4 linked regions of the Homo sapiens genome follow. The protein of the gene in region 3 interacts with the protein of the main gene of each other region in a biochemical or structural test. Each region holds a gene or a part of one and is shown on either strand. Other genes may lie near its edges.

What was found.
Region 1: of the proteins of ABCA1 (region 3) and LNX1, one has a biochemical effect on the other in vitro, tested with the Homo sapiens proteins (2 studies listed by BioGRID and IntAct, with this or other methods).
Region 2: the proteins of ABCA1 (region 3) and ERBIN interact in a test that uses a peptide from one of them, tested with the Homo sapiens proteins (2 studies listed by BioGRID and IntAct).
Region 4: of the proteins of ABCA1 (region 3) and CSNK2A2, one has a biochemical effect on the other in vitro, tested with the Homo sapiens proteins (one study listed by BioGRID).

Annotation. Positions count from the first base shown.
Region 1 is NC_000004.12:53,588,461-53,595,870, reverse strand, and holds the start of LNX1 (E3 ubiquitin-protein ligase LNX), read left to right. Parts: upstream 1-4,384; 5' UTR 4,385-4,483; intron 4,484-7,410.
Region 2 is NC_000005.10:66,020,561-66,027,586, reverse strand, and holds part of ERBIN (erbin), read right to left. Parts: intron 6,266-7,026; coding exon 6,202-6,265; intron 4,298-6,201; coding exon 4,223-4,297; intron 3,282-4,222; coding exon 3,137-3,281; intron 2,108-3,136; coding exon 2,035-2,107; intron 1,740-2,034; coding exon 1,610-1,739; intron 1,286-1,609; coding exon 1,170-1,285; intron 1-1,169. UniProt on the Homo sapiens protein: Acts as an adapter for the receptor ERBB2, in epithelia. By binding the unphosphorylated 'Tyr-1248' of receptor ERBB2, it may contribute to stabilize this unphosphorylated state.
Region 3 is NC_000009.12:104,785,133-104,792,158, forward strand, and holds part of ABCA1 (phospholipid-transporting ATPase ABCA1), read right to left. Parts: intron 6,867-7,026; coding exon 6,804-6,866; intron 5,897-6,803; coding exon 5,790-5,896; intron 5,768-5,789; exon of another isoform or gene 3,436-5,767; coding exon 3,294-3,435; exon of another isoform or gene 2,923-3,293; coding exon 2,788-2,922; exon of another isoform or gene 2,485-2,787; intron 1,845-2,484; coding exon 1,741-1,844; intron 1,259-1,740; coding exon 1,166-1,258; intron 508-1,165; coding exon 264-507; intron 1-263. UniProt on the Homo sapiens protein: Catalyzes the translocation of specific phospholipids from the cytoplasmic to the extracellular/lumenal leaflet of membrane coupled to the hydrolysis of ATP.
Region 4 is NC_000016.10:58,167,105-58,174,130, forward strand, and holds part of CSNK2A2 (casein kinase II subunit alpha'), read right to left. Parts: intron 4,183-7,026; exon of another isoform or gene 3,366-4,182; coding exon of another isoform or gene 3,261-3,365; intron 1,590-3,260; coding exon 1,506-1,589; intron 692-1,505; coding exon 581-691; intron 205-580; coding exon 103-204; intron 1-102.

The sequences.
Region 1 (7,410 bases), on a different chromosome or scaffold from region 3:
ATAGGAAGCAAAATGGGCAAAGTAATTCTGCTGAATCACAAGGCATGGTCTTCGCTGTAGGTTCATTGCCAGGAGGAGTCCTTGAGAACGCCAAGCTTCATGGGGGGATCTACAAGAAAAGAGCTTTGAAGACAGACCTCCTTCCCCCCTTAGATTTCCCTGTCAAGATATATAAAGGAATTCAAACTAATCAAAAAGCCCAAGTGAGCCGGCTGGTTAACTAGGACAGGCCCAACTTTGAGTTCAGAAAGCTTTCTAATGTTTTCCACCTGCCTATCCAAAGAACAAAGTTTCCAGGATATGTTGACTGCAAAAGAGGCTTGCTCCTAAAGAGAAAGATCATGTGGTTGCCGAAATGGCATATCCTGGAAGTTTAGCTCAATGCTGAAAACCATTGTCATGCATAAGAAATTACCCCATGCCCAAGATACTGAGTTTCTTTTTCTTAAGCTGTTTAATCATCATGAGAAAAGTAGTCAACAGGCATGTGAGGACATGAAGCAGTTAGCCCTTGAGGTTCCCGAGGCTCTTTACAGTCTCAGCCCATCTAAATTTAGCAATCAGTGGATCCTCTTCACCCTAGCAAGGTGGGTATTTCATTGTCTCGTATTCCTCTTCTCCCCCACCACACACATGTTCCTCCCCAACAGATATCTGCTATGATCATTCCTGTTCCACCCATGCCACTGCCCTGTCTGGAATGATCTGTGCCCTCTCACCACCTCTCCAAATCGTTCAAGGCCCAATTCATGTTCCTTTCTTCATGAAATATTCCCCAATGGCACCAGCCAACACCAATATTTTTGCTTCCTGATCAGCCCTCTTCTCTGTCTCACTTACTGTCCAACTAGAGATAGAAAAGGGGACCAAGTGGCTCGCACCTGTAATCCCAGCACTTTGGGAGGCCGAGGTGGGAGGATCACTTGAGGTCAGGAGTTTGAGAACAGCCTGGGCACCATAGTGAGACCTCATCTCTAGAAAAAATTTAAAAACTAGCAGGGCATGGTGGCACGTGCCTGTGGTCCCAGCTACTTGGGAGGCTGAGGTGGGAGGATCACTTGAGCCCAGGAGGTTGGGGCTGCAGTGAGCCATGATGGCACCACTGCACTATAGCTTGGATGACAAAGGGAGAGTTGTCTCTAAAAAAAAAAATTAAAAAAGAAAGAAAGAAAAGAAAGTAAGAAAGTAAAAGAAAAGGGTTTGATCTTGGGGGGTAAAACCAACTGCTAGTGTGCCTGGAGTAATATCTTCAAGATTCCAAAGTTCCTTCTGAGTTGAAAAGTGTCATGGTCTTTAGCAATGACAGTGAGAATGGTATGGGAGGGGGGAATGGAGCACTATATGTCCAGGATTTGCCAAGCCTAGTCTAAACCATTCTTCCTGGTAGTGGTTTATAATGAAACTTAATTTTTCATTGTCTCATATTTTCCAAATGTATGCAGTTCCATGTTCTTATGGCCACTCGGATTAAATTTTCAGATTTTAAAGTGATAGGCCGCAGAAGTTACAGAGAAAAATGACCATAAAAGATGTCATAGAGAGTTACAACTGGTCATTCTTGAGGGGTCCCTCAAGCTGGCCTTCCATCTTGGGGTTGATTTGATAAGCTCTCAAAAGATGATTTCAAGTGTGCACCCAGGGGCGATGGATTTCCTGGTATGATTTCTCATAAATATATGCATGAATTTATGAATATATACATATTTATATATACATATATATATATATATTATACACACACTTTCAGCATATAGACCAGATTACTAATTAATTTCCAAATGGAGACATCCTTTATCAGAAACTACCCTCCCCAGGGCTACTTCTACAGGTTTCTACTTCTCCTTCTGAATAATGGGTAAGAAGCTGAATGTGTCCAGGAAGTGTCCCAGTGAGCATGAAATCAGAACCTTCCCTCTTTTCTTTCCAGTGGTTAAAAAGTGGGCCTTGATTAAAAACTGCTCTGCCGCTTGCCGATGAGCTTGTCCTTAGGCAGTTTCTCAGATTCACTATGTCTTGGTTTTCCCAGCTGTAGAATGCAAATAGCAATGATACCTGACACAGGGTTCTTGTATAAAGTGCTCAGAACAATAAGTAGCACCTGTTAAACACAATGTTCATTTTTATGATTACATTTTTTTCTAGTAGTTTAGAAATATAATTTCCATGATAATGTAACAGCCCTAATGGCCCAAAAAAAAAGCCCATATTATTTTTTTTAACCCCTGCATATTATTCGAAATCCAGGAGTACCAAGAAAGATCTCACCTGAGAAGGCTAATTGTGTAGTTTTTTCTCTTCCTTTATACACTATACCTGGGAGTTAGCTCCACTCCTGGATTAACTCTTATTTCTCTATTTTCTTTCTGTTTTACAACAATTCATCACACCACATATGTAGATGACTGTGTGTATGTGAACATGGCAAGTGAAACCTCACGATCTCCAGGCTGTTCGGTGAAGCTTTATGCGAATTCATTTCACCTACACCCTTCCCCTGCCCACCCAAGGCCTTGAACCGAAGCCTGTGATCCCCTCCCAAGTTGGATCCTGCCCTTCGCCAAAGGCAAGACCGCTGAAGGCGTGGCCTTCTAGATGATTCATCAGGTTGGCGGGCTCTCCCTCCCCTCCCCCTTGCCCAGGGGACACCCTGTCCGCGTGAAGAGGGGGGCCTTTGTGTGAGTGATGTTTCTCAATTATCAAACTAGTGGCGTGAAACCTTTTCCTGAAACACCTGAGTGTAAAAGGTTTTGTTACCTCCCTTTTTTTCTTTTAAATAATAAAGGAATAGCCACACCTACCTTAGTTTCTATTGGATAAAAAGGTGAATAGTTTTGTTGTGGTGGTTGTTGTTGTTTTAAGCCTTCAACTCTCAAAAGGCACAGAGTTCCCAGGTGCAAAGAGGTAGCTTAGACCTGTCTGGGGCGGATCGGGGACAGGAGCCAGCTCCCCTGAGGTCGAGCACCAGAGCCGGCCCCCAGACCCCGCCCTCGACTACAATTTCTCTTCCTTCTCCTCCCCCTTGCTTTGCGAGCTATTGACTGACTGCAGCCAGCTGAGGCCCAGGCTGTGGGAATCCGGACTTCCTTTTCTTCCCTCTCCCATTTTTCCTTCTTCCTCCACCCTCCCCCAAACCAAACCCCAAAACCTCTAGGTAGTCCAATATTAAAACCGGTGGAACAAAAGCATTCCCAAAATCAGGAGGAGGGAAAGAAGAAGACGAGGGAGGCAAAAGTAGGAGGAAAATAGGAATGTCAACATTTATTTTCCTGAAGGGGAAAAAAAATTCTCTCTGGGCAGGCAGGCCATCTTCCGGGACGGGGAATCCACAGTTTCCTCAGGTAATGAGTTCCAGGGATGCTGGATGCAGGTGGTAAAAATACGCAGCGTTTCAATGGGATGATGGGAGATGTTTACAGCCCTCCTGGGAAGATGCCAGAGAGTTTAACAGTCCTGGGATACCTCCCAGCTGCCTGCTCTGGTGCTGGATGAGTTTACGCCTCCTTTCCTGCTGGAAAAGGTGAAGCAACCAGTGACTTGTCCAGGGTCACACACCACGCTTGGGACAGAAATAACTCTGACGTCTCTTTCCTGGCTATATCAGCAGACAACATCGCCTAATGACAGTACTACCATTCCAATCTGAATCATTTAAATTGCTCCTAATTGCAGGCCTGCAGTGCACTGTAACTGCCGTATGACTCTAACTGCCAAGCCAGCCGAGATAGGAATGACTGAAGTTTTGCAAATTCCTGAATATGGAATTAAAAATGCTGGGCGGGGGAGGGGGTAGCGCAAAAGTGTTTGAAAACCACTTTGAAACTGCTGACAGGTATCCTATTTCAAATTGTTTAAAAGATGAATTGGAAATGTCAACTTAAATTTGTCATTTTATTGGAATTAGAGAAACACTTGGTGTTCAAATGGATGCGGTTCGAAAAGGCACCTCAGATATTTCTAAGAAGTTCGGCTTCACACTCTTCCTTTTTGTGTCTGCTAAATTACTGTCTCATTTTGGTGTTTAAACTTCCCTTTTAACTCCTTTGTGGGCAGATATGGGGAAAGGGGAGGGCCTGGGAAACAACCAGGCATTTGACTTCAGATCTGAACACGGGGCTGGACACGTGCTGTGCTCAGGAAAGAAAGTAAATTCCACCTGGCAAATTGCTCTAACTGATTTATTTGTCCACAAAGAGACGCCACCTACCTGCTTGCAGGTATTCAGGTAAATGACAGGTGGGCGGGGCCTCCTGACTCTTTCAATCCCTAAGGTCTCAGCAATGCTTTATCTGTCGGGGCTTCCGTGATGTCACCCATTTCCTGGTCTGGAGCGACCAATGCCGTCCTCCTTCCTCCAGGCACCTGTTCACCGAAGTTGAGGCTGGTCACAACTCCGGCGGCCCAAGGAGCTGCTCGGTTCACCCACAAGGAATGAGAGCTGCCTGCCTGCTGCTGCTTGGAGAGCCCCAGACAGTCGCTTGAAGAGGTGAGTTGAAACCCTCCATTTTTCTCTCTTGGCATTTAGACCACTGGCCCCTGAGGGATCTGAACACGGAATTTGAATGAAAAAATACAAGCTGAACGGCTTGTCGCTAGTGTTTGCCCCAGAGGGAGAAGCTTTTTTGAGACAGAAGAGTAGAGAGATGACTTTGACATTCTAGTTGCACAATAAACTTCTCCCAGGCCAGATATTTAATCCTTTTTGTTTCTCTGATCATTAATCCAGCCTGTGCTTGTCCTCGTACTTGATCTGATTAAAACAACAACAACAACCTAAAGAGAAGTAGAGTGAAGGCTTTTGTTTTGAAACTTAGCGCGAAGGTGCAGATCTGTTCAGCCCGTTTAACGGGGGCTAGGAGGCCAGTGCAGACTGGATTCAGAGTTCTTATTTTTCCTTTTCTTCCTCCCTGTATTTTGATCTAAACCTGTGAAGTGTCCCTAGTTTTTTTTTCTTTCCCCCTGAAAACCTGTTCCTCAGGGCAAATTCTGTTGCCCTATTCAGAAGCTGTGCGTTCCAGTTTTCCTCTCTTCTCTGAAAAAGTCTACCATTTTCTTTGCTCTTTGTTGAACACTCTTTTAAATACGACTTTGCAGTGTGCATTTAGAATTTGTTTACATTTAGACCTGGACTGGCTGCCTGCTGACCTTTGGTTACAGTAAGAATTAATTCCCTCATTGCTGCAAGAATGTGACTTCAGGTCTGATTTTTAATTTTTTGGACCTCTTTGGCTTTTTCTGTCTCTTTTTCTTTTAATAGCAAATATACCGAGGAAGTTGTTCTGCCAGGACCTGGCTTTTAAAGTAATTTTACCTCTAGGATCCATTTTTGTTTTCTTAATCCTGATCACACAGCCTGTATCTTGACAGCCCAATAGTCAAACTCTTTAGCCAATATTGTTGTCAGAGAAAGGAAACCATTTTTAAGCCCAGCTGCCTGCTGGGATGAGCTGGAAAAACTGGAAAAAGAAATAAATCTGCGAGACACTTCATTCTAGATTCCAACATCAGCTGTTTTTCTGAGATTTAAGTTAGCAGATGTTTGCAAGGGAATAATCTGTTAGGAATTATGCTCCTGTTCATCCACCCAGAAATACAAAATGCATGTAAATTCTCCCAAGGTATGAATTGAAACAAGCTGAGATCATTTTTGCCTTAGACAGACAGTCGTTCCTCACCACTAAGAATCTGCCCAGTTCTTGTTGCTAATTTCTGTCTTACTGTTTGGAGGTCCCTATTGTTCTTCCTTAACTGACCTTTGTTTATTATTTTCCCCAAGCTTGTGAGTTTAAGGGGGGGGGTTTGGCCACCACTTGTCTCTTACTAAGGTTCTCACTTGATTCAAAGCTTGGATCTTCTGATAAAAGTGCATCTAAACCTCTCCTCAAGATTACATTGCCTCTGGTTTACCATGGTTGATTAGTGCTTTTCACAGTAGTTAATTTATGATTAAATAAATAATTTCATCACTGTATGTCAGCATGTCTGAGTACTAAAGGAACAAAGCTGTAGACACTGTACCCCCAGGTAGAAGAAAGAAAAGAAGTGACAAAGACTGGAATTCAGAGTCAGATTGACTAGAATGCAGTTGGTCTGTTGGGTAATTTACACACAAGTCCTGTCCAGAGTTCCTGTGGTAACTCCACCCATTGGTTCAAGTGGACATAGGCCTGATGGAAAAATGTGCAATCTCCTTCATTTATATCCTTGAGCAAGTTACTTCTCTGACTTTCAGTTTCTTCATCGGTAAGATGGGAGATAATAATCCCCATGATCTAATGTGGTTGTGAGAAGTAAATGAGGTAGCTAATATATGTTAGCATCCAGCGACCAATGCCTGGTGTTAACTGGTGCTAAACTGAGGCTAGGTTCTTCCTTTGGAAGGAATTTTCCTAGGTTGCTTGGAGGAGAGAGTCTGACTCTATCAAGATAAAGATCATATGTGGTTGCAGTTGTAGGAACCTTGATAGTTCTTGTTATTGTAATTAATTGTAGGTAATTAACTGCAATGTTAACAGTTTGGAAAAAGAAAACAGGCAGGAGAATTCTTAAACAATGTCATCAAACAAGGTGGGCAGATTTGTCTCCGCTAGCCTCACAGGCAAAGCTTTTAGGAGTTGCTGGCTGGCTGTGATTTCTTCCTTTTCCCACTCTAAGGCTCTCATCCTGCAACAGACCCACAAAATGTGATTCTCCATGGGCCTTTCGGGGGAAATGTCCAGTTGTCATTGCTGTAATCTGACTTGGCAGAGAGTTCTTTTTGCTGTCAGTCGTGCTATCTCCAGGGCAGACTGGGTGTTTGGTCTCCTCCAGTCTCACAGATAAACACCCTTCTCCCTAACCAGAGTGAGGGTTCATGCCGAGCCTCTGGCAGGAGGAAGCCCCTGGTTTGGAGCCTCATTGTACCATAGAAGGAGGTTCATGACCCATTGGATGTGATTGGCCTTGTCATGCAATACCCTGTGCCCTTGGGTGACCTTGAGTCATTGCATATGAGCAGTTGTGTGCCCAGGGCCCTGGTCACTTCTCTGGGTCTCGCCCTTCAGGGATACCACAAATTTTCATCATTCAAGAGTAAGGGATTAGTGGATTGAGGTCAGTGGGTTCTACTGTTCTACTAGCTTGCCTACGGAGCCCTAAGGGAGAACCTCAACCCCCCTGCATGTCAGTTTCCTTAGCTACATTTTTCCCCAAAGGACGCTAAAATGGTGTACTTCACAGGCCCCCTCCATCCTTACAACTGAAGCAAGGTGGGCTGCATGTCCAGGTGGGTAGGTCAGACTGACTGGGGGGACTGGGTAGTGCCTCACTAGAAAATATCAATCTTATTCATTCCATTCTAGGTGGGGCAATGCTACTGCTTTAGAATAGTGGTCTGGTCTCTGGCATCAGGCTGCCTACCTGGGTTTTTGAAAC
Region 2 (7,026 bases), on a different chromosome or scaffold from region 3:
TGTATTGTTTAGGGAATAACAATGGGAAAGTTGGTACACGTTCAGTACTGACACAATTTTTTTCCAAATATTTCTGATCTGAAGTTGTTTGAATCCACACTTGCAGAACCCACAAATACAAGGGTCAACTATAAATACTCATTAGAATACTAAATGAAAATATCTTATTTAAGAGAGAATTATCTACTTCAGCCTTGCTATCTTATACCTAACTAGTCTTCCGTGCCTTTCTTTCAGCAACCCACTGTGGGCCGTAGGAATTAAAGGCTGAAACGTGACTTAAGAAAGCAGTGGTTCTTTTAAATAAAACAGAAGTTAGAATATCATAATTAGTCAGAAAATTGAGTTTAAATTAAAGCTCTACCTTACAAGCTACGTGAGTCACCTTAAATCTGAGTCTTAAAACCCTCCTACATAAAATGGGAATACTATTATACTATTTCATAGAGCTGTTTTGAAGACTTCACAAGACACTATGAAAGCAAAAAGTGAAAACACTCTACAAATGCTGTTTAATCATCATTAGTATGTTTACCTCACGAAAAAGTATGGACATTCTGTTTTTAACTTAAACATTGTTCCAATTTACAACCCTAGTGATCAATTTACTCTGCACCTTGGCTTTGTTGAAACCAGATCTCTGCCTAGGAAAATATTAGCAACAGACTAGATACATTCCAAAATTGTTTTGTTAAATAGCAATATTCAGGTGAAGATGTGACTTCAGAAATAAAAGGTAACTGTAAGAAGAGAATAAAGACTATATAGCTAAGTCAACCCAAAATGAACAGTAACAACCACCGTATGATAAATTAACATCAGATAAAATAAGACCACTCTTTGTATTTAAAGAAAAAAATATATACAGTTAAGTCCTCATTTAAGTTATTGATAGGTTCTTGGAAACCAAAACTTTTAGCAAAACTGTGTATGGCAGGTTCTCAAATAATGTCATTTTCTTATAACACTGATGAACGAAAGAAGTGATTTCATTGTATGTTGTTTCACTGAAAGTCACACTTTCCAAGAGCCTATCAATAACACTGAGAACTTACTATGTATATTTAAAGAGCAACAAGCACTAGCTATTCTATTATATATCATATGAAACTTAATTTCATCTAACCAATGTCTCCTATAAACCAACTGATGAATATAGTATTACGAACCTATTATCACTTAAATTAATGACTTTTAATTTTTGCATATCACCCATTTCCTCTGGAAGTGTCTCAAGTTTATTGGAATGGAGAAACAGCACAGTTATATTTTTCCAGCTTCCAATCTGAAAGAGAAATATAAACTGAGTATCAAAAAATTTGGCCTACAGGTTGATCAACATATAAAAAACATCATTTTTGAAAGTTATGAAAAATACTTCACATTTATAGAAGAAATAATGACTAGACTTTCTTTTTAATTAATTTTTATGTACATAAGAAAGCATTTAAGAACCTCTTCTAAATTAACATAGCTAATTATTCAGAAAATAAATAACTTGAAAACTATTTTAGAAAGAAAATAAATGAAGCCACACTAAATAGCTATAATGAAGATAATCAGAAAAAAATGAAAAGACAAAAATCTAAACAAATCTAAAATACATTACCTCTGGGGGCAACTGCTGTAAGTAATTATGATCAGCAGCAAAAGTTCTTAAGTTAGTAAGCTGCCCAATAGATGAAGGCAAAGCTTCAACTTCATTGAAACTACAATCCAGTTCTTCTACTGATATTAACCTTTAATTTAAAAAAAGAAATATATATTATTTGTTAAAGATTTCCTATATATAATCCAAAATTTCAGAACATATAAACATTTGAACTTGACTTTGAAAACCTAGTGAAACCATTTCACAAAGCTAAACTTCACCAATAAGTAGGTTTGTCTATCATAAACACACTCAACCTGTATACTAATTACTTAAATGTTTACAAAATCTTTAGGTCATTTATGCAAATACCTGAAAATATGTATGGCATGCTGAACTGAAAGTAAAATCTTCGAGGGTGTATACATTCACAAAAAACTTACCCTCCTATAGAGTCTGGCAGATACATTAACTGGTTTTCATCTATTTTAAGCGTTGTTATATTCTTCAACGAACCTAATGAGGGAAGAAACAACATACAATTTTTCAGCTTAAAATAGAAGCAAGTCCACCAACAGTCAGTGTGAGACATACTACATCTGACAAGAATTAGAAACAACTTTCCTAACAAACGTATCTAAAAGAGATACCACTCCCAATCCCAATGTTCTATTCCCTCATCCTGTCCTTTCAATCTTCATCCACATCACTATTTAACATAGTGTACATTTGTTTATTAACTCCCACTAAAATATACTGATAGTAGGAACTTTTTTGTCTTCGTTGTTCACTGTTGTAGCTCTGCTTCTAAAAACAATGTCATGGCACAGAAAAGACAGACAATACAAACTTGTTAAATTAATAGACTAAAGAAATGGTAGTATGAAGGTAGTTCATAACAGGTATATAAAAAACTATTCCATATATACTAAATACTAAAACAGTAAAATATTTTTTAAGTTTAAAAAGTGTTGACTAAGAGTAGAATCGTAACAAACTTACAAAAATGTAGTTTTAGCTAAAACCACTACGTGATTTAACTGAGAAATATTTTTGGTTTTTAAATTAAAACATCAAAAAGATGTCAAGATTGAAGTTTTGGGTCCTTTCATCAAAATAATTCAATTCCATTGACATATCATTGAACAAGCAACTACACAGACTCAATCATAGATCTCTCATGATCTGTTCAACTGATCTGTTTTCTTGTCTGAGTGTCTGTAATGAAACAGGACTGAAAAAAGTTACCAAAATAAAAGCTATGACAATAAAAGCTAACAGTTAAGCCAAATTTGCATAAGTTAACTTATTTTAAAGAATTTAAATATATTAGAAATAAAAATGAGATTACCTTAGAGTAAATAAAAAACAGTAATGTCAACAAAGGAGCAAACTGTACAACTGATCACACCAGGAAAAATTCAAATAAAATCCGTTCCTGTGGTAACGAAGTATAACTACCTCATAACAAGTGAAATTTGAGATTATGTGGAAGTCTCGAATTTATTTTAATAAAAATTACATGAATTTGAAAGCAATACAAACCAATAGTCTCAGGAAGCTGCTGAAGTGAATTGCTTGATAATAGGAGGTCTTGAAGGTTTTCACATGTTGAAATTCCTTCTTCAACCATTTCAATATTATTTTTAGAAACATCCAAATATGTGAGCTGTTTCAAACTACCAATAAACTATAAGTAAAAAAAGAAAATCTAATGACTCTATTAACATTAGTAATTTGTAAAAAGTTTAGGGAATAAACTTGATACCAAGTTTTAATTCAAAATTAAATGCTAATACAAGAAAGAAGACTCCCAGGTAGTTTTTTAAATGCCATTAGAAATGTATTCAGTAATATAGCTAAGATGTTCTACTAATTGTAGCATAGCAGAAGTGACAAAGGACATATTCTTTGGGAATTCAGGTATCCATTACCTCCTAAGGAAATAGCATATATGGGGATTCTTGTGGTTTTTTTTATGGGAGTAAACAATTTGTCAGTTGTTAAAACAGAAAGTTCGGCTGGGCGCGGTGGCTCACGCCTGTAATCCCAGCACTTTGGTAGGCCGAGGCAGGCGGATAATGAGGTCAGGAGATCGAGACCATCCTGGCTAACACGGTGAAATCCCGTCTCCACTAAAAAATAAAAAAAAATTAGCTGGGCATGGTGGTGGTCACCTGTAGTCCCAGCTACTCAGGAGGCTGAGGCAGGAGAATGGTGTGAACCCAGGAGGCGGAGCTCGCAGTGAGCCGAGATCGCACCACTGCACTCCAGCCTGGGCAACAGAGCGAGACTCTGTCTCAAAAAAAAAAAAAAAAAAAATTCAGAAAGTTCATGAAAAATATCCTAGTTTACCAATTCCTTGGGCAAAGCAAATTGGGACGTAAGTTCAAGTGATACCATTGGAAAGGACACACTCAACAGTATTAAAAGGAGACATACAAATGTTTATTATGAGAATTCTTAGATTATAATCAAGAATGTGCTCATGAAAAAAAGTAATTTGCTTCTGTTTAATAAAGAATAATTCAATTTTTTTATTAATTAAAAGTAATTATAAAAGGTACAATTCACAAAACTGCAAAGGAGAGCCAGAAATAAGTGATGCCATTTAAAATCTCATATACATACCCCTGGAATAAAAGTCAGTCTATTAGCATCCATCCAAAACTCTTTCAATCCACTTAGTTGCTCAAGTACTTCAGGCTGTTGGGATTAGGGTAGGGGATAGCAGTAATTCAATTAATTTTTATGAATGTCTTTATCTGGCAAAAGAAGCCCTGGGAATTTCTAATAACCTTTAGTTTCAAATCATTAAATAAAAGGAGCAGGGAGAAGGAAAAATAAAAAAGAAGAGCCAGGATGTAAGCCTTTCTACTGCATTATAGTTACTACAGTAAAATTATTATAGAAAATTATTAATGGAGAAATCAAAGAGACATGCCATAGCAGTAGATTACAAAAAACACATTTAAGCTTTGGATTACACAACAGGGGCAAGTTTTTATATAATTTGTAAAGAAATAAAAAATAGGACTCACTGCTTAGAAGTATACAATAAAAATATGCACTCATGCATTATCAGTAAGAAGATACAGCTTTTAGAAAACAGAAAAATTACAAATGTTCCCTGGTGACATTCATTAAGAAGGAGATAAAAGACAACGTGCATCCTAAATGTCCATAATCAGGGAAAGGTAAATAGACAAAGTCATAACTACATGATACAAATATACTGTAATTTAAACCTCTAGTAAAAACTTCTAATTACATGGTAGAAAATTCTTTATAATATGGTGTTGAGGACATCAAAATTAATCCAAGTGTTGTGGCAGACCTTCATATCCAGGCAAAATTTGCTCCTGGGCATTGTCCCTTCAAGTCTGCCCTCTTCAAAGTTATTTCTATCACCTCACAAAGCCATCTGCAATCAATGATCATGTGATGGCACAGAGTACTATCACATCTAATGACCATAGTTAACAGTCATATATAAAAGGCATGCCAATCAGATTTACTGTTAACATATAAATATAGATAAGAATCCCAGATGTAACTTGGATTAAAAGAAATTTCCTTTTGTGCATTACTGTTAAATTCTACTGTAAGTTTTAAAAAGTGTATAATGTTGGAAGACCAAAATGGTACAAAAACTAATGACGATTTTGAAAGCTTGTTGGATTCTTAAAATGAACGAGATTTTTGAAATAGTTAATACGGAAACGGATTCATACAGAACAAATATTGAGAAAGGACGTAACAGATAAATAATTTGGGAAGCACAGCATGTATTTTAGAGAATGAGGTACTCCAAAGTACCATGTTCCTCCTCAAACCTCAGCTGAAATTTATAATATTAATATAATACCCACAGGGCAATACTATAGCAAGCAGTTTTGAGAAATTCCTAGGCTTAAAACCATCATTTGAGAGCTACCACACTTTTAAACAACAAACTTGTAAACTAATTTAAAAGTTTAATAATGATACTCAGCTGGATGAGTTCCTCTTCAAAAAAAAAAAAATCTAGCTTATTTTCTGAGTTCTTTTGGAAAACTCACTAAAGACAAAAGCTACTTAAACACTACTCCTTTCCTTTTAGAGTCAGCTTCATAGCGCACTTGGCATACAAAGCACAAACAAAAAGGTTCTCATTACCACTTCAAAAATAACAGTTGTTTCACTCAATGATTTTCCCCTTAGCTATTAAGTAACATTATAGAGAAGTATCTTATTACTGAATAAGTTAACAAGCAATACCCCATGGAGCTCTCTCTGATTCAGAACTACTTTTACCTGCTGCATTCCAGACTGATGTTTCCCACTTATAATCACTCAAATTTTCTGCTTCCTATGCTAAAAATTGTTTAGTATCTCTTCCATGGACCTCTCATTGATTTTACATTTTATGCTCACTTGTGGTCAGAAGTTCATCTGTCTGGTTAATTTTTCTATCTGTCTGGAAAGTTCTGGCTAAGAAATTTCATATCTTGTAACTAAGAAAAAAAAGTAAACCTTTATCCAATTTGTAAGAGAAATACATTAATTTTCATATTTTGTTCTTCATTAAATATAAGAACTTAGGGAAAGTGAGACTGATGAGAACTTACCACTTCCGTGAATTCGTTACTTCCCAAATCCAGTCTTTCCAGCTGGGTCAGTCTATTCATAGTTCTGTTCATAATGGAGTAATGAAAAATTAACTAGAAAAATATCAATTACATGGAAGCTTTCAAAACAGTCTAAAACATTCTTATGGAATAGGTAATTATTTATGGGCTTTCACATGTTGACAAAATAAAAATATTAATTTTCTAAAAAATTTTAAAAGTCAGATTTCTAGATAAAATAATTATCAGTTATTATCTTATTTTGCCTTCTCATTGGTCTTTTCATTTCTATTTTTAAGAAGCAATTGCAATAAATTTAAACCCACAAGCCAGAATACAAATAATGAGTTTCTATTTTTTCACATAATGAATTTTCATATAGTACAAGTCAGCTAATAAATGTTGGCAGATGTATAATAATTACTACCATAATTACAAAAATTCTTTTTCAAAACTGCTCATATATTTGTAAGACTTTAAGATAACTGTAACTCCGAAAATTAATATTCAAAATGCTAACAGTACGTTGTATTACTCCCCACATGTTCAAATTAAATACAATACAATTCAAAATAAAGTTTTATATGAATCACAAATTAGTAGTTGACATTTATTTTAAATAAAAGCAATAATATACTATTCTTAACTTCCAACTTAACATCAACACTTCTCTGAAATTACAGGAACTTGAAAGATGTACAAACCAGTTTGTAATGAAATAAACTATGTTGCACTTCTATCTTTTCTCTCTCCTTTTACAAAGGTACCCTTTGAAACTAATTCAAACAAATATTTACACTCTTAAGTGGCTATTTTTGTACAACA
Region 3 (7,026 bases):
CCTGGCCCATGGTAGGTGCTCACTAAATGGTAGTTTTTATGGTTATTATTACAGTAAATTCTCACAATAATCCTATAGAGTACATAGGCATCATCTCCCTTTTCAGGTTCAGAGAGGTTTAGTAAAAAGCATAGCTAGGAATAGTAGATCAGGAATTCAAGCACCAATTCAAGATACAAACTGCTCTTGGACCTATGGGCGGGAGTGTCGGGGCAGGAATCCACACCCTGAGAAGTAAATCTGTTTTGACACTCAAAGCTTACTTGGTCAAGTGTTGTCTGAGAAACAGAGTAGTCTTCTATGTGGAGTCGCTTTTTGCTCTGGGAGAGGATGCTGAATATCCTGGCCAGAGAAGATAATGAAGATGGAAGCTGGTATTGTAGCATGTTCCGGTGTTTCTCTTTTAGAACACTTCCAGGAAATGCAAGTCCAAAGAAATCCTGGACAGGCTTCAGGTCCGGGTTGGACCCTGCTATTCGTACAACTATTGTATAACCATCTCCAAACCTGAAAGCAGGAAAAAATACCCAAATGGAGGATCTCCAGAAAACTATTTAAAAGAATACTGAACCCTGGGAACCCAACTTGTGCCATGAAAAAGGGCGGCCCCTGGCAGGCCCAGAAATAAGTTTCTGAGAGAAGGAACCAGTTATCATTTACTAAATACTTATTTTATGTGAAGCACCATGCCATGTGCTGTAAATACATGATCTCCTTTAATCCTCACCTGGACCCATGAAGTCTGACAGATGTTACAGAGAAACTGAGGCCCAGGGAGTTAGTCACTTGCCCATGGCTCAGAGCTCATAATTGGTAGGGCCAGGATGCAAACCCATTTGTGTTTGACTCCAAAGCTTGCGCTCTCACCAGTACTGGCACATGTAAATTTTTTTCATTTCATCTATAGCACAAAGCTAGGAGGTAGATCTTCCAGGGAAACTAACTCTTACAGTAGTTAAGTCACTTGCCCAAGAGTCACAGAACCAGTAAATGGTAAAGACAGAATTTGAATGCAGTTCGGACTTCAAAGCCCTCATTCTTTCCACTATACTGTTTTGCTCAGTTTTATTTCCCTTTATGTTAGAGGCACCATTTATATACTCACAAAAGAATAAATATCAAGCCTTCTCACTAGGCACTATCCCAAAGAAATTATCTTTATTACCTATTTTTTAGATGCTGGACACTGCCAAGGCACCTGAACCTTCCATTGACCATGATTGCCATCCTAGTGCAAAGAGCTTCACATTCTTCCATACTGCGGTAAAACAGAAAGAGGTTTTAGTTTTAGAGAGATTCTCTGTAACCATGAGAACATCACCATGACTTCCAGCATTCCAGCTTCCTAGGGAATTGTATTCTGTTACAAGTACATGTGGATATAGGGATGATGCTGTTCAGTGTAGTGGTGTTTACAATTGTGAACAAGTTGGAAATAATCCAAATGTCTACAAAAGGGGGAATAGTTAAATAAGAGTATATCCTAATGGAATACTATCCAGCTATAAGAAATGACACCTAAATGCACTGACTTGGAATAATGTTTACAATATATTAAGTGAAAAAGAGCAGTATTTATACTGGGCTTGCATTTTTGTAAGAATATGCATATATAATTTCAGGTAATAATTGTTTTACTCTTTGCTTTTCTGTATTTTCTAATTTTTACAAAATGATCGCATATTCTACTTGGAAAGTTAAAACATCCCACAGTGAGGAACCCAAGACTTTACTACGGACCTATGAGATGTAAGCACTACTGATCTCCCCTCCTTGACAACACTTAGGGCACAATTCCACAAGAACCGCCGGGCTTTGGGATCCATGCCTGTGGTGGGTTCATCCTGTAATTAGAATAAAATAAGTCTTATTTGCTGGGGGGAAAAAAAATCAAAGATAAATTTGTTTTTAAATGCAGAAGCATCTTTGAAACAGCTTAAATTTTAACTTGCCATTCTAGTTATTTCTTGATGAATCAAAGAATTAGAGTAACTTTCAAATTCATTTGTAAACAAGGTCATTATTATAAATGTCTTATTGATGCAGGAAACTCAAATATTCTGAGTACTTTTTTATGTAATTAAATTTCTCCAAATAAATAGGGAAGGAAAAAGGCCATTTAGTTGTAATTATCTTTTCATGACTGATAAGTATATACAAAACAACTTTTTGTCTGAAACCTCTATTGAAGTCAGTATAAGATTGGGGTGAAATTCCTTTTTTTTTTTAATTCCAGCTCACTCAGATTACCCTAGTATATTGCAACTGTTAGCCTTACAGAAACAAATTCCAGACCGAGGTGGAATACATAAAAGCCTCAAAGGCTTCTTCCCGTAATAACATCAATGCTCTTATCTACAGAAGAAAAAAGGTCAAGGGCCACTTCCCAGTCTGATCTGTTTTTCATCTATCCGTGTGTAAGGAACTATGACCTAGTTGCTACCTTGGGGATTTTAAAGCTGTGTCCACACTCTTCATTTTCAGGGAATGAACACAAAGATGATTAGAAAGAATGTTCCAGAGAAAGATCAAATCACATATCCAGCCTCAATCACGCTAAGAAACAAAGTGCTTGGAGTGCCTCTATTTGGGAGCATCTGCAGGCATGGTACAGCCACCCCAGTGTGTGCCAAGGGAGAAGCTTCCCTCTGCTTTTCCAAGGTTGCTCTGCTGTCCCTGGGGGAAGACAAGCCAATCATACAACAGCCCTGGACATATAGGACTTTTGAACAGTCATGTTTTCCACTCAGGCCAGAACAACAGTTTTCCATCCACAGTTATACTCACCAGAAACACCACAGGAGGCCCGCCGATCAAAGCCATGGCTGTAGAGAGCTTGCGTTTGTTGCCTCCACTATAGTTACCAGCATATTTTTCTCCATACTTCACGAGGCCCAGTTTCCGAATCGCCCACTCACCAACCTACAGTGATAAAAAGCACCTTGACTTTGGTCTGGCTTGGGAATTTTATCATGCTGTCCTACACATACATGTATGAAAGTTCTTTCACTGAGTAGGACTAGATTCTATAATCATAACCTGACAACTGGTGAGGAGCCAAAGCAGGGAGAAGGGACTCGTGTGGTGGGAGCAGCACTCCCTCTCTGCCCACCCAGCCCTGCCCCACCACCGTTACAGGTTTCCACCCTGAAAGCAGATACAAAGAACCAGCATTTTGTGCTGCTGCATTCATGAGGAAAAACAGCCTGAAGTCAATGCGTGTGGAAAAGCCATAAGGTATATATTGTCAGGATGCCAAAGGAGACAGGCTGGCTTTCAGGTGCCCACAGTACCTTGCCAACTTCTTTCTCTGGGACTCCTCTCAAAAGGGCAAAGAACTCCACGTGTTCTCTCCCAGTCAACAGCTCTGTGATGGCATCAAACTGAGGGCAGTAGCCCATGTTCTGATGTACTTCATGGATGTTTGATAAGATACTGCAAAGGACAAGAAAACTACTTAGATTTTAAGCAGGTAGAGATACTCTGGTTAGACAATCTGGCCTAATGTTCCTGTAAAGTATGCTTCTCCATTACAAAGATACCAATACATCTGCTGCTACTTGAAAGCACAGCCTTTCTGCCCCCAGGATGCTAGCTCTTCCTGGCAGGCAGGGTTCCTGCCTCTACCCTCCCCAGTCCTTGCACCTCCCTGGCTCTCTGAACACTTCAGTCTGCAGGTGCAGTCCCATTTCAGAATTTCTGAGGTCATGCCAACCACTGCACATTCTTTACCAACAATCTCAGTCACACTACCCCAGGGCTTTAACGCTAAGGCCCCATCCTAGACTTCACTCATATGCACCATTCACATGCACCAAATGAGAAGGCCCAGAAATTTTGAGTGTGAGCAACACAGAACCTAGAGACACAATTTATGTGGTGGTGGGGTGGCTTTGGGGTTCTATGAAGCCAGTCAAGTGAAGAATCACATGTGAGAGAAGTTCAGTGTTCACGTTCCAGACTGATGACTGCACCTCAGCCACAGCGGCATTGCCATGAACTTGGCCTTCTGGCAGCATTCATTCCTCTCTGTGTATCTAATTAGCACCCCCAGGGTCAGCCTTTTTCAGAATTAGGATTGAGGCACACGTGGACACCGTGCCAGGCCCTCACAGCTATACCAACCAAATCAGTTCTTACAACCAGTCCCTGTGACAAACCTTACTATGGGCTGGTTATTACTGCCACTGCTATATGCGTCAGGAGCTTGGTACTAGGAGCAAGCCTAGGAAAGCAGTTGTGCAGCGCTAGGCCTGCTATTCCCAGAATGTCTGTTCTCTTAGGATTCCTTTACATTGCTACTGCAAAAATGTAAGAGACAGGAGAGGAGATCATGAATACATTAATTTCCTTGCTCTTTTCAATTTTATTGGCTATCCCCCTGTCCAGTGTGTTCAAATTGTGAGTCATTGTTCATTAGTGGTTTGGGAAATAAATTTAGTGGGTCATGACCAGCACTTTTTTAATGACGCAGTATAAGGTAGAATAAGAAATAGCAGAGTGCACTACAATTAGTAACAGTAGGTACTGCTTTATGAAACTTTAGGTTATACATGTGTCTACATGTCTGTGTGTACATACTAGGTTGAGATATAAAATGTATTTCCCACAACGGTCATGGTCAAAAAACTCTGAAAGCCACTGCCTTGTACTATCTCTCCACATAATAAGTCCAGAGAAGCCGGGCGCAGTGGCTCATGCCTGTAATCCCAGAACTTTGGGAGGCTGAGGCAGGTGGATCACCTGAGGTCAGGAGCTCGAGACCAGTCTGGCCAACATGGTGAAACCCCATCTCTACTGAAAATACAAAAAAATTAGGCAGGCATTGTGGCGGGCACCTGTAATCTCAGCTACTCAGGAGGCTGAGGCAGGAGAATCGCTTGAACCTGGGAGGCGGAGGTTGCAGTGAGCCAAGGTCGCGCCATTGCTCTCCAGCCTGGGCAGTAAGAGTGAAACTCCGTCTCAAAAAAAAAAAAGCCCAGAGAAGCCCCACATATTTAAAGTACTTAGAGTAACATTATCTAAGAAGCCTATAAAATGTAGCTGTATTCCCAAAGATCAGATTGCTTTGTGACCTGTGCAGTCTCAGAAAATGGCCTAACGGTGGCTCAGTCAATTTGTATGCTCTTTAGAGAGGGCAATTTACTTTGTAGGAATTGTTCCTGAGGAAATAATAAAAGATGTATACAGGGACATATTTACATAGTGAAAAATGGAAACTAATGTGTCCAACATTTATAAGGAATTTATTAAATAAATTATAGGTACATGTACATAGGGGGATTTTATGTAGCAATGTAAAATTCCACATCTTAGGAAATGTAACCCACTGGGAAATATTCATAATACACTCATTAACAATAAAAACTAATTTTAAATTCTACATACAGTATGATCTCAATTGTATGGCACATTTATATGTGTATATAAGACAGATGTGGGGTGATGGAAAAGTTCTAAAACTGGATTGTGGTGATGGTTGCAAAACTCTCAATTTACCAAAAATCACTAAATTATACTCTTAAAAAACAAGCAAATTATATTGTATGTAAATTATACCTGAATAAAGCTGTTAAAAGAAGAGAATGAGACTGAAAGGAAATGTAAATTGTGATTATCTCTAGATATTGAAATCATGGATGATTTTATGTGCTTCTTTACCCTTTACTATATTTCAACATTTTTATGAACTCTAAAAATACCACTGTAATCAAAAATAACAACCTATTTCTTTAAATAAATTAAAAACAAAGTCTTTGCAGCAAAATACAAGCCACTTCTTTTCTCACCTATTTTTGTTAAGGAAAGCATCTCCTCTGGTAACAGTGGTATCTCCTGTTAACATCTTGAAAGTTGATGATTTTCCAGCCCCATTAACTCCCAGGAGCCCAAAGCACTGAAAAGGAAAGATTAAGTTGTATAAGCAAACTCTAAAAACATGAATATAAATGCCCCTAACACGTAACTACCTCAAACCTTCAATTCTTAAATATCAGAGAAGAATCAAATATTTTCTTGGTTTTAACACATCGTATAGATATTTAAATATGTATTTCATAATGGGACCATTTTAAGTGTGGCTGTATTTATAAATATTATTTGAGTTGTCAAGTTGAGGCCAAAGTTAATGTGTGAAAAACAGTAATGAAAGCCAGCTAGCCAAATTGCACCACCTACTCTGGCAAAAGGGCATAAAAGAACACAAACGGAAACCAGAAAGGAGAAAATCTATTTTTAAAAAACTATTTGAATGTCATCACCATCCCAAATGGATCACAAAAGCATGTTTTAGATGTGCGTGCTTTTTCTGTTTTTGTTGTTGACATGAGTCTCACTCTGTCACCAGGCTGGAGTGCAGCAGCGCAATCTGGGCAACCTCCCCCTCCTAGGTTCAAGCAATTCTCCTGCCTCAGCCTCCCGAGTAGCTGGGACTACAGGAATGCACTACTATGCCCAGCTAATTTTTGTATTTATAGTAGAGATGGGGTTTCACCATGTTGGCCAGGATGGTCTCAATCTCCTGACCTCGTGATCCGCCCACCTCGGCCTCCCAAAGTGCTGGGATTACAGGAGTGAATCACTGCGCCCAGCCCCATGCTTTTTCTTAAATTGTATTGGATTCTCTGAAATCATTCTCTTGACATACAGGGTCCCTCTCTTCTCGATGACTAATTGCTCCATCCTGGCATAAATACAGAAGCCTTTAAAATCCACTTTTACCTCTTAACGAGCATCGTTGCTTGATTGGGTAGAGATAGTCTGAACTAATAGGGACAAACGCAATATAGACAAAGTGTCTTTACCTCACCAGGAGGAATGCCCACGCAAATCCTGTCAACAGCAGGCTTCCGCTTCCTTCTATATATCTGCAACAAACAAAATGTAAACATTCATAAGCCTCAGTGACTCACAGCTCTCCCAAGCAACTGTGGAAGGCAGGACTATAAACCACATACACTGCAACATAAGACTTGTCAATAACCCTAAGCCATAGGCATATTTGATGTGCCAAGAGCCTTGGTCTGC
Region 4 (7,026 bases), on a different chromosome or scaffold from region 3:
CTGAGTGATACTTAGTGGCTCAAGGATAGTATTCTTATCTAAGGATGCTATTTTTTTGGCATTCACCCCCAAATAAATAAGAACCAGAAAGCATTTGCTCACCTGGTCATAGTTGTCCTGTCCATGGAAGAATGGTTCCCTTCGAAAGATCATGCTTGCTAACATACAGCCCAAACTCCACATGTCCAAGCTATAATCATACATCTGAGGCAATAAGGACAACGCATTAGCCAAGGGTATTAGAAATCCATTTTTCTGATATAAATTTCTTTTTTAGACGAGATTGGGCGTGTTCAGGGTGGTATGGCCATAGATAATTTATTTAAAAAAAATTTTTTTTAACTTCCTGGCTCCTAGAAATGATCTGAATTTCTAGTCTTCATTTAACCTTTGCAGATATTTTAGATTTAAAAACTTCTCTGTCCCCCCAAAAAACTAGCTGAGAAAAAACTAAAATCAGCATTTTAGGGTGAAATAATGGCTGGGTTTTGAGTGTATTCAAACTGACTAGATCAACAGCAAACCAGAAAAGCCCTAAGCAAGTATAAATAACCCAGAATAGCTCTGCTAACAAGTTTACCTGATAGTCCACGAGGAGCTCTGGTCCCTTGAAGTACCTTGAGGCTACACGAACATTGTACTCCTGAGCAGGATGATAGAATTCTGCCAGACCCCAATCTATCAGTCGCAGCTACAAATAGGACAGAAAAAAACATGTGAAAGGAGTGTTTCTAGACGCCTATGCCTTAGAACAAGGCCACATCACATTAGGTAACAATCATTTGGCCACACAAAAAATGTGAGCAGGTGCACTGGCTTAAAAATTACATTTTCAGCAATCGTGCAAGAGGTCATTTTTAGAGCAGAACACTTGAAATGCTTTTTGAAAAAATTTTAAATTATCCTGGTTCATCCCTCTCTCTAGATCAACAGAGCTCAACCTTTTTTTCTGCCCACATTCAGAAACTGTAGGCAGTTACACTTGGTAACACATTCTCCCATCATTCATAGCTTTTCGTTATAAGCTCCAGGCGTCAGTGAAAGGGCTGGGGACACACATCCCACTCCAGGACTGAAGCATTGCTCTAATGATTTATTCGTCTAATACTAGATGATCCATTTACTCACTGATTAGGGCCAACAGAGTTGGATATCAAAAATAGGAGGGACCCAAGTGTTCTTTTAAGGCCAGGCAGATTGGTCTGCGGGTCATCAAGAAATGAAGCAGAAACCACCAGCTGTAATTTCTTTCTGAGGCCCTCCAGAAAACTATGACCAAAATAAACAAGTGACTATAGTTAGTTACTATAGTTAAACCGTCTACTTTCCTTGTGTACTACACTATACAAAGTAGAAATCAACAATGGAGATGGGAGAAATCACAGTAACGAAAGTTTGCCAAAAAACCCACCACGGGTCTACAGAAACCATCATGGCACTGGACAGCTTTTTGGTCTGCTCTAAGCCTTTTAATCAAGCTTGTTGCTGCCTGGCTGTAATGGTACCTTTTTCTGTTGGTGATCTATCATGACATTGTGAGGTTTCACATCCCTGTGCATGATTCCCTTGCTGTGGCAGTAATCCAGAGCCTATTAGGTAAGAAAGCACAGATAATAGTAAGCAACCCCTCTACCATCCCCCAACGCAAGCATAGTCTTATTGTTTGTGACACCTTGACTTGAATACAGTCCCCCAACGGGCAGCTTGCTGCCTGTAATGAAAGAGAAAAAAAGCGTGCTTCAGAAGGCACCCCTTGCTCTCTCTGCACACTACAGCTGGTAGAAAGGGGGTATGAAGGGAATGGCAAGGGCTATGAGGAAGATTTCTTTTTTTTTTTTTTGAGATGGAGTCTTGCTCTGTCGCCCAGGCTGGAGTGCAGTGGTGCAATCTCGGCTCACTGCAAGCTCTGCCTCCCGGGTTCACGCCCTTCTCCTGCCTCAGCCTCCCGAGTAGCTAGGACTACAAGTGCCTGCCACTACGCCCAGCTAATTTTCTGTATTTTTAGTAGAGACAGGGTTTCACCGTGTTAGCCAGGATGGTTTCAATCTCCTGACCTCGTGATCCGCCAGCCTCGGCCTCCCAAGGTACTGGGATTACAGGTGTGAGCCACTGTGCCCAGCCGAGGAAGATTTCTTTAAAAGAGGGGGTGATGAGGCCAGGCACAGTGACTCATGCCTGTAATCCTAGCACTTTGGGAGGCCGAGGCAGGTGGATCACTTGAGGTCAGGAGTTCGAGACTAGCCTGGGCAACACGGCTATACTAAAAATACAAAAGTTAGCTGGGCGTGGTGGTGCGTGCCTGTAATCCCAGCCACTCGACTGGGCTGAGGCTGGAGAACTGCTTGAACCTGGGAGGTGGAGGCTGCAGTGAGCTGAGATGGTGCCACTGCACTCCAGCCTGGGCAAGAAAGGCGGGCAGTGGGGAGGGGGGTGTGTGTGTGGGATGATAAACCAGACTTTGGAACCTCACTGGAGTCACCTCTCATAATGGTTCAAAGGACAGACCAGCATCTATGTGGACATGAAGAATGACATTCAAATACATCTTTCAGTATGGCTTATTTTGTACATAAGGGTCCCACGTGGGTTTTCTAGATGACCAAGTATTAGTATTTTCCTTAATATAATCCCTGAGCCAGCTAGCCTTTAAGACTTATCATTATAAGGCCAGGCATGGTGCTCATGCCTGTAATCCCAGAACTTTCGGAGGCAGGCAGATCACTTCAGGTCAGGAGTTCAAGACCAGCCTGGCCAACATGGCGAAACTCCACCTCTACTAAAAATACAAAAAATTAGCCAGGCAAGGTGGTGGGCACCTCTAGTCCCAGCTACTTGTGGGGCTAAGGCACGAGAATTGCCTGAACCTGAGAGGCGGAGGTTGCAGTGAGCCGAGATGGCACCATTGCACTTCAGCCTGGGCAACAAAGCGGGTCTCAAAAAAAAAACAATTATCATTACATATTATTCCAAGGGAGAAAATTGCTTTGTTTAAGATGATTGATATGCAGATAAGATTTTATGTATATAATGGTTTTTCACAAATTTAAAAAGCTGTGCAACCATTACCACAATCCAGTTTTAGAACATCTCCATCACTCCTAAAATTTTTCTTGAGCTTGTCTGTAGTCAATCCCCTTTCCTAACTTCTCCCAACCCCTCCGTGCCCTGCCCACAACCACTGACCTGCTATTTGCTGGTATAGATTTGCCTTTTCTGTACATTCATAATATGAAATCATACATGTATAGTGCTTTGTCTACCTTCTTTCCTTCAGTATACTGTTTCTGAGATTCATCCAAGTTGTTTTTCCTTGCTGAGTAGTATTCCACTACTAGCTGATGGACATTTGGGTTGTTTCCACTCATGCTTTCATTTCCCTTGGGTAGATTCCTAGGGGTGGAAGTGCTGGGTTGTATGCTAAATTTGTGTTTAAACTTTTAAGAAACTGCCTAATTATCTTCCAAAGTGGCTGCGTCACTTTTACTCCCACCAGCAACCTGAGGGTTCAAGTTTCTCCACATTCTCATCAACACCTGTCATTGTTCAACTTTTTGATTATAGCTTTGCTGGTGGGTGTAAAGTGGTATCTCCATGTGGTTTTGATTTTTATTTCCATAATGAGTGATGAAGTGGAACTTCTTTTTATGTGTCTACCGGCCATTCTAAATCTTCTTTGGAGAAATGCTGATTCAAATCTTTCAATCATTTATTAGATTGTTAAGCTCCATTTTTTTAATGTAAAAATTTGCTTCTAAATCTCCCTTGCCTAACATAATAACTATCTTCATAAACTTCAAATTCAGGACCTTTGGCTAATCTTAACAAGCACCTGAATCCTACACAAGGTCAATGAAATACTCTTCAAGTAGAATCCCTGTCCTCTACCTACCACTAGAGCCCCCCTCCAGTTTTAACAACCAAAAATGGTTCCAGATTTTGCCCAATGTCCCCTGGGGGACAAGCTTGACCTGGATAAGAAGCAATAAACTAGACTCTTGAGGACACTTGAATGGACTTCTTCATGCTGGAGGAGTACACAAGGCAGAGAATGAGCCCTAGGATTAGCATTCCAGGAATAAGCTCCCTCGATCTGTGCTTTTCCCTGAACCAAGAGTATACAATATAGAATGCTTGTTATGGCCAGGCGTGGTGGCTCACGCCTGTAATCCCAGCAGTTTGGGGGCCAAGGCGGGCAGATCACGAGGTCAGGAGTTTTGAGACCAGCCTGACCAACAGGGTGAAACCCCGTTTCTACTAAAAATACAAAAATTAGCCAGGTGTGGTGGTGCGTGCCTGTAATCCCAACTACTCAGGAGGCCGAGGCGGGAGAACTGCTTGAACCCGGGAGGTGGAGGTTGCAGTGAGCCGAGATCATGCCACCGCACTCCAGCCTGGGCGACAGATAAAAAAAGAAAGAATGCTTGTTATTTGAAGATCAAGAACAGGCACTACTAACTATGGGGATACATATAAAGATATAATCTTCAGAGGAGACACTGAACAGAAGAACACAAGAGAGCCCTGCAGGATGTTCACAATATCCTCTACCAGCCCTGTCCAATAGGACCTTCTGCAATGATGGAAATATTCTATTCCTGCACTCTATAATACGGTAGCCACTAGCCACATGAGGCCACTGAGCACCTGAAATGTGCCTAGTGTGATTAGGGAACTAAATTTTATTTTATTATTTTATTTTTTTGTACAGGGCCTTGCTCTGTTGCCCAGGCTAGAGTGCAGTGGCATGATCTCAGCTCACTGCAACCTCTGCCTCACAGGCTCAAGTGGATCCTCCCACCTCCACCTCCTGAGTAGCTGGAACCATAGGCATGTACCACTACACCTGGAGCATGCATATATATATATATATATATATTTTTTTTTTTTTTTTTTTTTTGGTAGCTATGGGGCTTTGCCATGTTGCCCAGGCTGGTCTTGAACTCCTGAGCTCAAGCAATCAACCTGCCTTGGCCTCCCGAAGCATTGGGATTTATAGGCGTGAGCCACCGAGTCTGGCCAGCAACTAAATTTTGAATTTTACTTAATTTAAATAGCTACCTATGGGCAGTGGTTACTAACTATACTGGATATCATCGTCCTGTGTAAATCTGGGTGAGAGTTTTACATACACAAACATCCAAAAGACTGTACGTTTAAGATTTATTTACTTCACTTACATTCTACTTCAATTTTTTCCCTCTGTTTTATAATAACTGTAGCAAGATTCCAAAGTGCCTTTGTGGCAGTGCTTTATGAAACCAGGGGTTGTGAGGGCAGACCTCCTTGAATCTGAATCAGGAGATCAGGTTAAGTCACCGAGTCATCACACTGCAGCCCTCAGCCTCAGTTGCTTCTACATTTTCAAAGGAGTTAAATATTTAGTCTTCCCCACTCCTGTTTTTTCTTTTCAAAGAGAAAATTTACCAAGTGTTGATTCTGCTATATTGCCTACTCTTTGTCCAAAGGAATAAACTAATTAAGACCACAATACCTGGCATGTGAAAAATACTCAATGAAAGCAAAGGCTGAACAAATACAGTAAGGTAATTAATTCTTTTGCCAAGTTTCCTAGTCGGACTCCCTATGGAGTTACTGACATGCTTTGAAATTCTTTGGGGAATTATTTCAGTTTTAAAATCTCGTACAGTTTCTGACCATTAAGCATGAATGACGTTTTTCAAGTTTCATCTGGGATTCTACGTCTCATTAGCAAAAATAAGTATATGTCCTCACTGCCTAGCTGCTACCTCCAGAAAGCAGAAAGGACATCAGACATTGAGTGACACCCACATGTCCACCTGGGAAGACCTGCATTAGTTGGATGTCTTTATGGGACCTAAGGGCAGGCTAGCTTATACAACTTTAGCTTTGGCTGATGGTTAAATAACACAAAATCTCAAACCATCTTACTTAAAAATAACCAACTGTGAGATCTGAATTGTAGCTCTCATGGGGTGAGAGTGCATGGGATTACTCAGGAAGCACTTCCAGGAAAGGAGCTAGCCTGACAGTTCACAGGATCATGGCACTGCAAATTTTATCCACACCAATGCTTCAATTTTAGTCTAGAGAAGACATGGAGAAACGTGGGATAAATCAAGCTCGACCTTTTTCGTGTTTCTGATCTTACTGACAAAAAGGAAGACCCATTAGCCATAAGAGTGAACCTTAAATCCACCACCTCAGCTTTCTCTAATAAAAAGTGGTGCGTACAAGTTCTTATAAAAACACATTCATTTCATAGAACTGTTCTTAAGATCTACAACTACCCTAAAACTTTTCACAAGACTGCATATTAATACATGCATTTTTGGAGGCAGTTCATAGTTTTCATTAGGTTCTTAGTGATCCAGGACACAAAAATCTAGGACCCATGGGTGTATTCCATTTTACAAACTGAGCATTCCTTTAAGTGCTTATCTAGACAAACAAAATGATCATTCCTCCACCAACCAGTAATTCTTCAAATTTCATTGTGCTTGGGATTAGTAAGTCTCTTAGACATTCTACCCATCACTTTTCCCTGCATTAACGAGCCACGGCTACAGGGGTAGGTTAGGAAGACTCATGCAAGAAGGGGATGACGACACATGGCAAGGAAAGATGGCTGCAAATGCCTGCCACCCCTGTAGGCATGTCTCTCTATAATATGCCTACATATTCAATGCTTTTCCCATCAAGAGTGGAGTCGGTTTTTCCATGCTTTGAAGCTAGGCTTGGCCATGTGATTTGCTTTGGCCAATAGGGTTATTAGCAAATATGACACAGGTAGAGGGTTGAAAAGTGCCTATACATTGAGGTTTCCCTCTCTCTGCTGCTAGGAACCCCAGGAGGACCACCATGGGAAGCAGCATGAACTTCACAGGCTGGAGGATGAGACCTCAGCTATCCCTGCTGCCCCAGCTGTGGTCCTAGATTGTGAATGAGGTCATCCTGGACCATCCTGCCCCAGTCAAATCAACTGAGACCTAAAGAATCACCTGGCTAACTCAATTATAAGAAACAATAATCATTTTTTAAAAGTCA